3 separate regions of the Homo sapiens genome follow, and regions 1 and 3 are each reported to be linked to region 2. Evidence: microRNA targets listed by miRTarBase, many of them from high-throughput screens and not tested one by one. Region 2 holds a microRNA gene; each other region holds the end of a gene's coding sequence.
Evidence for each region. Region 2 holds the annotated microRNA hsa-miR-3686 (AUCUGUAAGAGAAAGUAAAUGA, at 2,122-2,143, shown strand). A microRNA usually pairs through its seed, bases 2 to 8, with sites in the 3' UTR of a target mRNA and lowers its output. Matches are read on the target gene's strand: a 7mer-m8 pairs with bases 2 to 8, a 7mer-A1 pairs with bases 2 to 7 and ends in A, and an 8mer does both.

Region 1 (4,000 bases), not on the chromosome of region 2:
CTAAACAAGAGGGACTTGGGGTGGGACAAAGGCTGCCTCCGCTGAAGGCAGAAGCAGCTGGGGAGGCCAACTTCATTCTGATATGAAGTCCTTCCTACTAAGTCAGAATTATTTCATCACAGACCCAATGGAAGCAAAGAAGTGAGGCCCCCTCCCCTGGGCGTGTGTGAGCTGACACTGGACACCCATCTCTGGGAGAGGGAAAGGGTGGGTGGACTTGAAGTCAATGTCATGCAAACCCTCCTCAAACATGGAGCCCTCTCTTCCAACAAAAGCATATGCTGAAGCCCGTATCATAGATCAAAGAGGAATTACTGGGGCTGGCTCCAGAGCATGGAGGGAACCCCACCCTCAGGGTACTTTCTGGATGACCCCAAGTTCAAACTGAAGTTTAAGAGTCACTCAGGGCTGGGCGCAGTGGCTCACGCCTGTGGGAGGATCGCTTGAGCCCAGGAGTTCAAGACCAGGCTGGTTGGCACAGTGAGACTCTGTCTCTACAAAAAGGAAAAATAACTTGAACCCAGGAGGCAGAGGTTGCAGTGAGCCGGGATTGTGCCATTACACTCCAGTCTGGCGACAGAGTGAGACTCCGTCTCAAAAAATAAATAAATAAATAAAAAGGAAAATAAGATAAAACCACAAGTCAATTCCCAACCCCAGACCCCAACCTTGCTTTATTTTCTCCACGGGTTTACCAGCACTGACACACTGCATATTTCATTTATTTTGTTTACTATCTAGTCAATGTAAACTTCACAAGAGCAGGAATGCTTCTGTCCCTTTTGTTATAAAGTATCCCCGGGACCTCATAACAGTGCCTGGCATGTACTAGGGGTTCAATAAGTGTTTGCTAATAAAGAGATGCTGAGTGCATGAGGCCCCAAGTGGGCTGCATCACATCCCCCAGGGAAACGCTGCTCACACCATTACCCCATTTCACAGATGAGGTAATCGAGGCTCAGAGAGGAGTCCATAGCTAGCTAATAAGAGGTGGAGACAGAATTGAAACCCAGGTCTCTGACTCCAGGGCTGTGTGCTTTCCTCTCTCCAAGCACACAGCACTGGGAGAGTCTTGTCTCCAAGGCAGGCTGCATGAGATCAGACAGGGAGAGAGCCTTTTTTTTTGTATCTGTCTGTATACCACAATATGGCTTAGGAAGGTCTTGGTGGTTAACAAGGCTCCCAAATAGGACCCAGAACACAGGTGCTCAATAAACATCTGGATGGATAGATGGATGGATGGATATGAATGAATGGATGGCTGATGGATAGAAAATAGATAAATATGGATGCATGGGTGGATATTAATGAATCTGCACAGACCCGTGTGTGGATGGATGGGTGATAAATGAATAGGTAGGTGGATGGACGGGTGGGTGGGTGGATGGATGAATGGATGGATGAGTGGGTGGATGGATGGGTAGATGGGTGATAAATGGATAGGTGGACGGATGAGTGAATGGGTAGATGGGTAGATGGATGGAAATGAACAGATGGAAATGGTTGGATGGGTGGATAAATGGTTGGAAGGATGGATGGATGGGTGAGTGGGTAGATGGATGATAAATGGATAGGTAGGTGGATGGATGAGTGAATTAGTAGATGGGTAAATGGGTGGAAAATGAACAGATGGAAATAGTTGGATGGGTGGATAAATGGTTGGAAGGTTGGATGGATGGGTGAGTGGGTAGATGGATGATAAATGGATAGGAAGGTGGATGGATGAGTGAATGGGTGGATGGGTAGATGGATGGAAAAACAGATGGAAATGTTTGGATGGGTGGATAAATGGTTGGAAGGATGGATGGATGGATGGGTAAATGGGTGATAAATGGATAGGTAGGTGGATGGAGGAGTGAATGGGTGGACGGGTAGATGGATGGAAAATGAACAGATGAAAATGGTTGGATTGATGGTTGGATGGGTGATTGGATGGATGGATGGGTGGATGGGTGACAAATAGGTAGGTGGATGGGTGGATAGGTGAGTGGGTAGATGATTGGGTGGGTGGATGGATGGATGCGTTGGCAGATGGGTGGATGGATGAATGGATAGGTAGTTGGATGGGTGGGTGGATGAATGGGTGGGTAGATAAATGGGTGGGTGGATGGGTGATAGATAGATAAGAACTTCGTAAGCCATGCTGTGGTATACAGACCAATACAAAAAAGGATCCCTCCCTGTCTGATCTCATAGGTGGATGGATGAGTCAATGGCTGGATGAGTAAATGGGTGGGTGGGTAAGTGGATGGAAAATGGACAAATGAGGCCAGGTGCGGGGGCTCACATCTGTAATCCAAGCACTTTGGGAGGCCAAGACGGGCGGATCACTTGAGGCCAGGAGTTCGAGACCAGCCTGGCCAACATGGTGAAACCCTGTCTCTACTAAAAATACAAAATTAGCCAGGCATGGTGGCTCATGCCTGTAACCCCAGCTACTTGGGAAGCTAAGGCAGGAGAATCGCTTGAACCCAGGAAGCAGAGGTTGCAGTGAGCAGAGATTATGCCATTGCACTCCAGCCTGGGCAATAGAGTGAAACTCCCACTCAGAAAAAACAAAAACAAAAAAAAAAGAAGAAGAAAGAAAATGGACAGATGGAGATGGCTGAATGGTTGGATGGGTGGTTGGATGGGTGAGTGGATGGATGATAAATGGATAGGTAGATGGATGGATGGATGATGGAAGACGGATGGGTGGGTGGAAGGCTGTGCAGATGGATGATGGGTGAGTATGTTGGCAGATGAATGAATGGACAGAAGGACAGACAGAGGGCTGCACAGGAGGCTGCATGGGGGATGGCGCAGAACCCAAACCTGAGAGGAGAAAAAGCGCTGACCCCACCTTCCCTGCCACCCCAAGAAGCACAGCATGGGGCCACAGCCGCTCTTGTTTAATGGTGGCACAGCCTGCGGTCTGGTTCCTCCATCAGGGCGCTGTGGGTATGGCCCTGAGGTGAGGGGCAGGCCTGGGGTGGGGTGGGGTGGGGCCTGAGGCAGAAGCATGGGGGCTGACCCTCTGCCTGACATGGAGAGAGGACATTCAGAACCCTCCAGCCACAGATGGCCAGAAACTTTGGTTTGTGTTTGTTTTCAAGTTTCTGTCCTCAAGGAAGCTGCCCAGAAAGGGAGACGAGGGGACTGCTTCCTGAGGGAGCAGAGGGGCCAGAGCTGGGAGGAGCAATGCCAGCCGAAGACAACGCCCAGACAAAGCTCACCAGCTCCAGGGCCACCCGTGGGAATGCAGCTGGGAGAAGGGTGCTGGAACAGGCTCCTTCCACCCCATGGGAGCCCCAGAGTCTGCCCCAGGACCTTCCCAAACCCTCAGGAAGGAGAAGCACGAGGAAGGGGCCCCAGAGGTGGGAATGAGGTTGAGAGAGCAGCAGTAGGAAACAGACAGAAACAGAGAGTGGGAGATTTAGGGCAGGGCAGAAGAGACGCCACGGTGCCCACCCACCTCGGGGGAGAGAGGGGGTCAGTTCTGAGCCCCATCAGGTTCGTGACCCACTCTAGGAGGAGATGACTCAGACCCCAGATCAGAGAACGAAGCCCCCAGGAGGGGCTGGAGTTAGAAGTCCGGTGGCCTTGGGACGGGGGTGACCCTGACGAGGGTCAGCAGGGGCGAAAGCAGCAGAGCAGGGACAGAACTTCAGTCCCATGAAACCTTGACAGGCGCGAACTTCCAGAGGTCTGGCTGGCCCATGTGCAGCAGGCCGCTGAAGGGCGAGGTGCTCCACTGGAACGGGGGCACCTGGTCCCACGTGGGACCGCTGGCCGCCAGCAGGCTCAGGATCCTGGCCAGTGACATGCTGGTCACCTGGGGACAGGGCAGAGCCGCAGCTGAGCAGGGGTCCTGGCCTGCCCCAATCCAGGCACCCAGCCTCCCACCCTGACCTTGACCCCAGAGCCCAATTCTGAACTGTCACTTTTTTTTTTTTTGAGTCTCTGCTCTGTCACCCAGGTTGGAGTGCAGTGACGTGATCTTGGCTCACTGCAACCTCTG
Region 2 (4,152 bases):
AATCACACTGAGAAGCTCCACATCCAGTTGCCTTATTGTTAGTTAGAGGAAGCTCTGTGCCTCCTGGAATGAGTGAGGGATTAAGGAGAAGAGTATCCACTTTGGGAGCCCGAGGCAGGCGGATCACAAGGGCAGGAGATCAAGACCATCCTGGCTAACATGGTGAAACCCCGTCTCTACTAAAAATACAAAAAAAAAGGAGAAGAGTATCAAAGAGAGGTCTTTTTCTGAAAGGAAATAATGAATTCATGTCTCCAACTGGAGAAACCTTTGAGCAGGAACGGCAACAATGGAACATCTGTGCTGTTCATTCTCTTATCTCCTGCCTATGACAGCCACTGCTAAAACACTATTCTTTCAATCTCTGTGCAAACTCAGAATCATTCTTAACCAGTTCTCCAGTTATGTTATATGTATAGTACTATACATTATATATATAATACATGGTATATATTATATTTATACACCATATATTGATATATAGTATCAATATATAATATATAACATATAATATTTACATGATATATATAACATAATCTATGATATATTACATTTAGCATTACATATATTATAGATAATATATAATAATACACATATAATGTATACTATATTATGTATATAATATGTATAGTATTATATATAATACATATGTATATGTACATATACATGTATATACATATGTGTGTATATATACATATACATATGTATCATATATGATAAATGTATACATACTATATATGTATATACTACATATATGATATATACATTTATATTATGTTATACATAAATATATAATATATAATAATATATACATATGTAATATATTACATATATATATAAAATACAGTCAGAGACAGCAGGTGAAATTTTCTTGCAACTGGGTCAGAGATTGAGTAACTATTATTTACCTGGAGTGTTCCAAACAAACTCTAAATTTCATTTTCCAAAGGTCAAAAACAAATTTCCTTATTCTTGCTTCTTGGTCAACCCCTACACACAGTGGTAAACATTTGTTCCAAATTCTTCCCTCCTGGTCCTTGGAAGGCTGCTTCAGCCTTTGGCATTTGTTTCTGGATAGCCACGACTGGCTTTGTACTCCTCCTGTGCCCTCCTGGCTTTCTGCACATGTTATATCTCTGACTTTCAGCTTTGAGGAAGTAGAATGCTCCTTCCCTTTGGAGAGTCACTGCTCTCCTTACAGACCCGCACACTCAGAGGACAAACCTGCTAAGCCATGGAAATACTCTCTCATTCTCTGCAGTACTAGAGAACAATAAAAGGGGGTGAACAATGGGCATGGGCAACAGCATAGATAAATCTGAAAACCCCCAGGCTGAGTGAAAGAAGCAGATAACAAAAGAGCACATACTGTTTAATTCCCTTTCAACAAAGTTCTGAAAAATGCAAACTACTTTACATAATGAGGATAAACCAGATCATTGTTTTCCTGGGGAAAAGGGAAGGGCAGGGGGAGAGTCCAAAAATGGGAAGGAGAGGAGGAAGGTGGGAGGAACCTTTTGGATTGATGATTTTCCCCGTAATCTTGATTGTGGTGATGGTTTCACAGTGGTATACAATTGTTATTGTCTGATACTTTCGAATTTTGCTTTTAAGCTTTTAAAGGCAAGATAGAGTGACAATTTATCTATTTTTCATTACGTAGCAAAACTATTCTGAACATTTTACCCAATACTCCGTGAAGTATGAGGTTTTCCACTTAGGTTACTGGAAAAAAGAATTATTCCTGGTGCCAGTGTCGTGGCAGGGAATGTTTTCTCTAATCCTTGTTGGTGCTTCCCCCCACCCTCATCTCATAAAGTCTCTGCACGCATGTGCTGATTAGTGCACAGCTAAAGACTCAAGGAGGACTCTGTAGAATCTCTGGTGCCTCTGTTAGGTAGCTCTCTTTGTGGTAGTGCTCTGTTCTTCAAACTTCAGCCATTTTGGTTTCCTGCATTCTCAGATCCATCATCTCAACTCAGTGGGACCACCCAGCTCCATGGGGATTCCTCTCCCTGTGCTGTGGCCTGGAAACTGTCTGTGCGGTCAGCTGGGGCAGTCAGAGGGCTCACCTCATTCATTTACCTTCTCTTACAGATCACTTTTCTGCACTGGACAGTGATCTGTAAGAGAAAGTAAATGAAAGAGGTGAGACTTAGGTTCAATGTCTCAAAAATGTTTCATGTGTTTTAAATGCTGGCTTTTTAGTTGTTTCAAGGGGAAGGTAAATCTAGTCTCTATTACTGTATCTTGACCAGAAACACACATATGCTCTCCTTTTGGATTTATGAAATGGCTTGGGCCATTTGATGAAACATCTTCTGTGGATTCTTCTCTCAGAGTTCAACTGGAACTCTGAGATATTTTCTCATTGGGCTGATAGCACATCTTCTCCTTTCTTGTTTGCATATGTGGTCAGAGAAGGCAGTTTGGACATTGCACCAAACATCTCCCTTGTCTTATGGCTGATAGTATAAGGCAGTATTCTCAAACTGAAGGTCTGTAGACTAAATCTAACCCAAAAATGATGTGTGTGTGTGTGTGTGTGTGTATGTATTTTTGCCTGCACAGTGATTAAAAAAGACCAAATTAGTTTTAAACATTAAAACACTGGACTTTTCCCATGGATATCTGAATTCCTGTCTTCTCTTGAAAAGTCAGAAGACCTGATAAATTTGGCTCATGTTCCCACAGAGTACCATTTATCAAAATACACTAGTGGCTTCCCCCTTTTGAAAGGCTGTGCACGCTCCACTTTCACATAGGCTTCCTCAGGCACCCACCTCTCATTTCTATTACTCGACTGGCCCCAGAGGCATGAGGATCTGTGGCCCTTATTGTAGAGATCAAGAGCACAGACTTTGGAGTTCAATTCTCTTCTCTGGCATTTTGATGATCTGACCAGAGTTCTTTCTCTTTCTGCAACTATTGCCCATGCTTCTATAAATGCTCCCCTTCTCCCTTCCTCCTTCCCTCTTCCTCCTTCCCCCTTCCCCCTTCTCCCTTCCTCCTTCCCCCCTTCCCCTTTCCCCCTTCTCCCTTCCTCCTTCCCCCTTCCCCCTTCCCTCCTCTCCTCCTTCTTCTTCTTCTTCCTCTTCCTCTTCCTCTTCTTCCTCTTCCTCTTCTTCTTTGCCCCTTATGTCTATTCTCTACCCTCTTGTGGCCAACTGTCTTGTGGCCAACTGGTCTTTTATGTATTTCTTTTTTTTTTAATATAAAAAGATTCATTGAATCAAGCTATGACAGTTTTTTAAAGCTATTTTAAACTGTTTTAACAACTATATTGAGCTATAACTTACATGCAAGAAACTACACATAGTTAAAGTGTATAATTTTAAATGTTTGGACATAATATACATCTGCAATCACGATAGTGGATATAGGTCAGGCACAGTGGCTTACATCTGTAATCCTGGCACTTTGGGAGGCCAAGGCAGGCAGATAGCTTGAGCTCTGGATTTTTAAATTTTTTTTTCACATCCAATCTCCCTTTAAAAAGAATTTCTTGAGAATATGGTACATATACACCATGGAATACTATGCAGCTATAAAAAAGAGCAAAATCATATCCTTTACAGCCACATGGGTGCAGCTGGAGGCCATTCTCCTAAGCAAGTTAATGGAGAAACAGAAAACAAAATACCATATATTCTCACTTATAAGTGGGAGTAAAACATTGCGTGCTCATGGACATAGAGATGGCAACAGTAGGCACTGGGGACTACTAGAGGTGAGAGGGTGGGGAACAAGGATTGAAAAACTAACTATTGAGTATGATGCCCAGTACCTGGGTGATGGGATTATTCATACCCCAAACCTCAGCATGCAATATACCCAGATAACAAACCTGTAAACATGCCCCCTGAGTCTAAAATAAAAGTTGGAAAAAAAAAGAAACAAATAAAAAGATATTTATATAGACTCAGTAAACCACTATTATTTCTTGTGTGCAAGTGCTTTGTACCAAGAGAACTCAGAAGCCAGAAGCCACCTTAGGTGACAGTTTATGGGTCAAGTTCCTATTCTTGGGGCACTGGGTTTTGTTCAGTGTTGTGGATAATATGATCAGCTTTCTTCAGAAGAGACTGGGCTTGCCAGGTAGTGACAATGTAATAGACTACTGCATCACATTCACTTAGTTTCCTACTTAGC
Region 3 (4,000 bases), not on the chromosome of region 2:
GCCCTCTGACTCTCTCTGGGTCTCTCCCAACCTCTATCTTTCAGTCTCTGTGTCTCTCTGGGTCTCTCTCGATCTCGGTCTCTGTCTCTCTGCGTCTTTGGATCTCTTGGTCTGTCTATCCTTGTCTCTCATTTGCTCTCCATCTCTCGGTCTCTGTCTCTCTTTTGTTGGTCTGTCTCTTACTCAGCCTCTGTCTCTGACTTGGTCTCTGTCTCAGTCCCTGGGGCTCCCTCTGCTTCTGTCTCTGTCCCTGTGGCTCCCTGGGGCTCCCTCGGCCTCTGTGCCCCCCACCTGCCATCCTGATATCCCCGCGTGCCCGCAGCGCGCGCTATACCAGTCCTCGCATGTGGACGAAAATGACGTGCAGACGGTGTCGCACAAGTGCCTGGTGGTGGGCCTGGAGCAGTATGAGCAGATGCTGAAGACCAAGAAGTACCAGGACAGCGAGGGCCTGTACTACCTCGCGGGCACCTACGAGCCCACCACGGGCATGATCTTCTCCACGGACGGCGTGCCCGTGCTCTGCTGAGCCCGCCGGGCCCTGCGGGCCACCTGTGCCCCGAGGGCGGCCAGGGACCCATCTCCATCACTGCCATGGCGCGGAGACCACGTGCGTTGTGTGCATGCGAGCGCTCCTGCAGGCGTGTGCATGGGGCCAGGTGTGCACGTGGATGCCCGGGTGAGTGTGTGTGCATGCACGTGTGTGCACGCATGTGCACATGCCTCCAGCCCCACCTTCCAACCCCTCAGTGCCCCCAGGACAGGGGCCCCTCTTAGCTATCAGGGTATGGCCGGACCGGCCCTTCCTGCCCAGCACGTTGCAAGCACTTGGCCAGGCCGGCCCTCCAGGCTGCTGCTGCGTGGGGGCCCGGGTGCCCCCAGGTCCATGCAGACTGGGGATTCGGTGGGGAGGGGCGCTTCTAAGGAACCAAACTGACGCTCACTCTGGGCTTCCCAAGCACCCTTAGCATGGAGCCCACCCCAAGGCCTCCCACCGTGCATGGGACAGGGCAGCCCGATGCCAGCTGGCCTACCTGACTGTGCCAGGGGCCCTGCCCCCACCCTCTCAGGATGGCCTAGACTTGGGGAACAGAGCCGGGTGGGGTTGCAGCCCGGAGTGTCTGTCAAAGGCACCAGGTGGAGAGGGCCCGGCACAGGCCCACCCTGGTCCAAACCCTCACACTACAGAAAACCCCAATGGTGCTGAAACTGTCGCCCGGCCACGCCTGGCCCCTCCCCACCCAGGAGGGAGGTGGCACTTCTTAACCTGTACAGTTTTATTGTACCAAGAGACTCGCCCCGCCCCTGTATCATAAGCCTTTAAATGGAGTCAACTTTTTAATTATATATATAAAGATAAATATATATAAATATATATATAAACTTTTTAAAACTGTGAAAAATAGCTATGAAATTATAAAAAAAAACATTCTGACGTGCAGAATATTATTTTTTATTTCCTGTTAGATTATAGTGTCTAGCACCGGCTTCACCGGCCTCCCAGTCCCCAGCACACCCCCCGCCCACCCCACCAAGTGTACTGTACTCACCCCCCAGGATAGAGAAGTGTTTGTTAGGGAGAGAAGAGGGAGAGGCAGGAGCCGGCCCAAGCCCAGGGTCCCTGCTTGGGCCCCAGAAAGCACTTAACCAGGCCCCAAGCCTTCAAGGGAAACCAAGGCCTCAACCAGACAATCTTGAGGGAAGGAAAAGCCAGACTTTGGGTTTGTTTTTTGGGGGAATTATTGGTTTTTTTTTTTATGTTTCTTTTGGAATTTTGTTTGTTGGCAAATTCTGTGTGATCTTTTTTCATAAAAAAAAAGAAAAGATTTAATTGGAAAAATAAAATTGTCTGGAGTGGTTTATTTCAGGGGCTGGAGTAGGGGTGGTGTCTGGGGGCATTCTGCCATATCAGGGCACCAAGAAGCAGGATTCGACTGGAAGAAGTTGGGTGCCACGCGTGCAGGGGCGGTGACCCCATGCAGCCATCTAAATGAGCTCATCGGCTGGGCACAGTGGCTCACGCCTGTAATGCCAGCACTTTGGGAGGCCAAGGCAGGCGGATCACTTGAAGTCAGGAGTTCGAGACCAGCCTGGCCAATATGGTGAAACCCCATCTCTACTAAAAATACAAAAAAAAATTAGCCAGGTGTGGTAGAGCGTGCCTGTAATCCCAGCACTTTAGGAGGCCGAGGCGGGAGGATCACTTCAGGCCAGGAGTTTCAGACCAGCCTGAGCAATGTGGTGAAACCCCGTCTCTACTAAAAATACAAAAATTAGCCGGGTGTGGTGGCCCACACCTGTAATCCCAGCTACTCGGGAGGCTGAGGTGGGAAAATCACAGGGACCCGGCGGGTGGAGGTTGCAGTGAGTTGAGATCGCACCACTGCACTCTGGCCTGGGGGTGACAGAGATTGTCTCAAAAAAAAAAAAAAAAAAAAAAAAAGAAATTGAACAAATTTACATGAGAAAAAATTAAAAGTTAAGTTGGATGGGCACGGTGGCTCACGCCTGTAATCCCAGCACTTTGGGAGGCCAAGGGAGGCGGATCACTTGAGGTCAGGAGTTCAAGACCAGCCTGGCCAATATGGTGAAACCCCATCTCTACTAAAAATACAAAAAAATTAGCCGGGTGTGGTGGAGCGTGCCTGTAATCCCAGCTACTTGGGAGGCTGAGGCAGGAGAATCGCTTGAACCCACGGCAAAGGTTACAGTGAGCTGAGATCGTGCCACTGCCCTCCAGCTGGGGTGACATAACGAGATTCCATCTCAAAAAACCAGTGCCAGGCATGGTGGCTCATGCCTGTAATCCCAGCACTTTGGGAGGCTGAGGCAGGTGGATCACCTGAGGTCGGGAGTTCAAGACCAGCCTGACCAACATGGAGAAACCTCGTCTCTACTAAAAGCACAAAATTAGCCGGGCATGGTGGCACATGCCTGTAATCCCAGCTACTCGGGAGGCTGAGGCAGGAGAATCGCTTGAACCCGGCAGGCAGAGGTTGCAGTGAGCTGAAATCGAGCCATTGCACTCCAGCCTGGGCAACAAAAGCGAAACTCCTCCAAAAAAAAAAAAAAAAAAAGCAAAGCTGCACATTTCCAGCCATGCCTACCACAAAATGATACTAGAAGAAAATGATACTAATGCTAAGAGTGGCCCCAAGCCCTCACCTAGATGGGGGTGGACGGCATCTCTGCACTGGGGCCTAGGGAAGCTATAGGTGGGGGTCTGGCTGCCCAGTGACTGACCTGGTTAGTGTGGGTGGCCTGCAGAGGACATTCGGGGCTTTGCAAAGAGGGTAACCCATGGAGGGCAGCCAGCCGGCCTCGGGCAAGGGAAGGGCCCGGCATGGGCTCTGGGAAACACTCTGGTGTCACCTGGCGCAGTCTTGGCCCAAGTGGCCGCCCACCTGGGCCCCAGGGAGGATGCCTGCCAGAGCATAGGTGGCCCTCGTGCCCTCCTTTACGGGACCCACATCAAAACCTGGACCAGCCCCATTCCTTGGGGAAGCTAAGGACAGAACAGGCCAGGCGCAGTGACTCATACCTGTAATCCTGGCACTTTGGGAGGCCAAGGCAGGGGGAACACTTGAGGCCCAGACTTTGAGACCAGTCTGGGCAACAGCAAGACCCCATCTCTACACAAAATAAAAGAATCTGGCCAGACGTGGTGGCACGCGCCTGTATTCACAGCTATTTGGGAGGCTGAGGTGGGAGGATCACTGGAGCCCAGGAGGTGGAGGCTGCAGTGAGCTATGATGGCACCACTGCACTCCAGCCTCAGTGACAGAGCGAGAGCCTGTCTTGTAAAGAAAGAAAAAACAAAAATGAGGCACAGGACGGGTGCAGTGGCTCACACCTGTAATCCCAACACTTTGGGAGGATGAGACAGATGGATCACTTGAGATCAGGAGTTCGAGACCAGCATGGCCAACATGGTGAAACCCGGTCTCCACAAGACAAATTAGCCAGGTGTGGTGGTGCGTACCTGTAATCCCAGCTACTT

Region 1: the mRNA of PLBD2 is a reported target of hsa-miR-3686. Seed matches in the 3' UTR shown: 7mer-m8 at 2,289-2,295.
Region 3: miRTarBase lists TNRC18 as a target of hsa-miR-3686. Seed matches in the 3' UTR shown: 7mer-A1 at 1,184-1,190.

Annotation. Positions count from the first base shown.
Region 1 is chr12:113,388,273-113,392,272 of GRCh38, reverse strand. It overlaps PLBD2 (phospholipase B domain containing 2), which reads right to left. Exons shown (of 12, transcript NM_173542.4): 12 at 644-3,814. The coding sequence ends at 3,647. Among named protein-coding and RNA genes, the nearest start is that of SDS, 14 kb to the left of the region's middle.
Region 2 is chr8:129,482,058-129,486,209 of GRCh38, reverse strand. MIR3686 (microRNA 3686) reads left to right here and starts at 2,068; the gene lies at 2,068-2,153. The region is part of intron 1 of CCDC26 (CCDC26 long non-coding RNA); the gene reads left to right.
Region 3 is chr7:5,304,635-5,308,634 of GRCh38, reverse strand. TNRC18 (trinucleotide repeat containing 18) reads left to right here. Exons shown (of 30, transcript NM_001080495.3): 30 at 323-1,824. The coding sequence ends at 529. SLC29A4 (solute carrier family 29 member 4) reads right to left here. Exons shown (of 11, transcript NM_153247.4): 11 at 1,723-4,000. Among named protein-coding and RNA genes, the nearest start is that of SLC29A4, 24 kb to the right of the region's middle.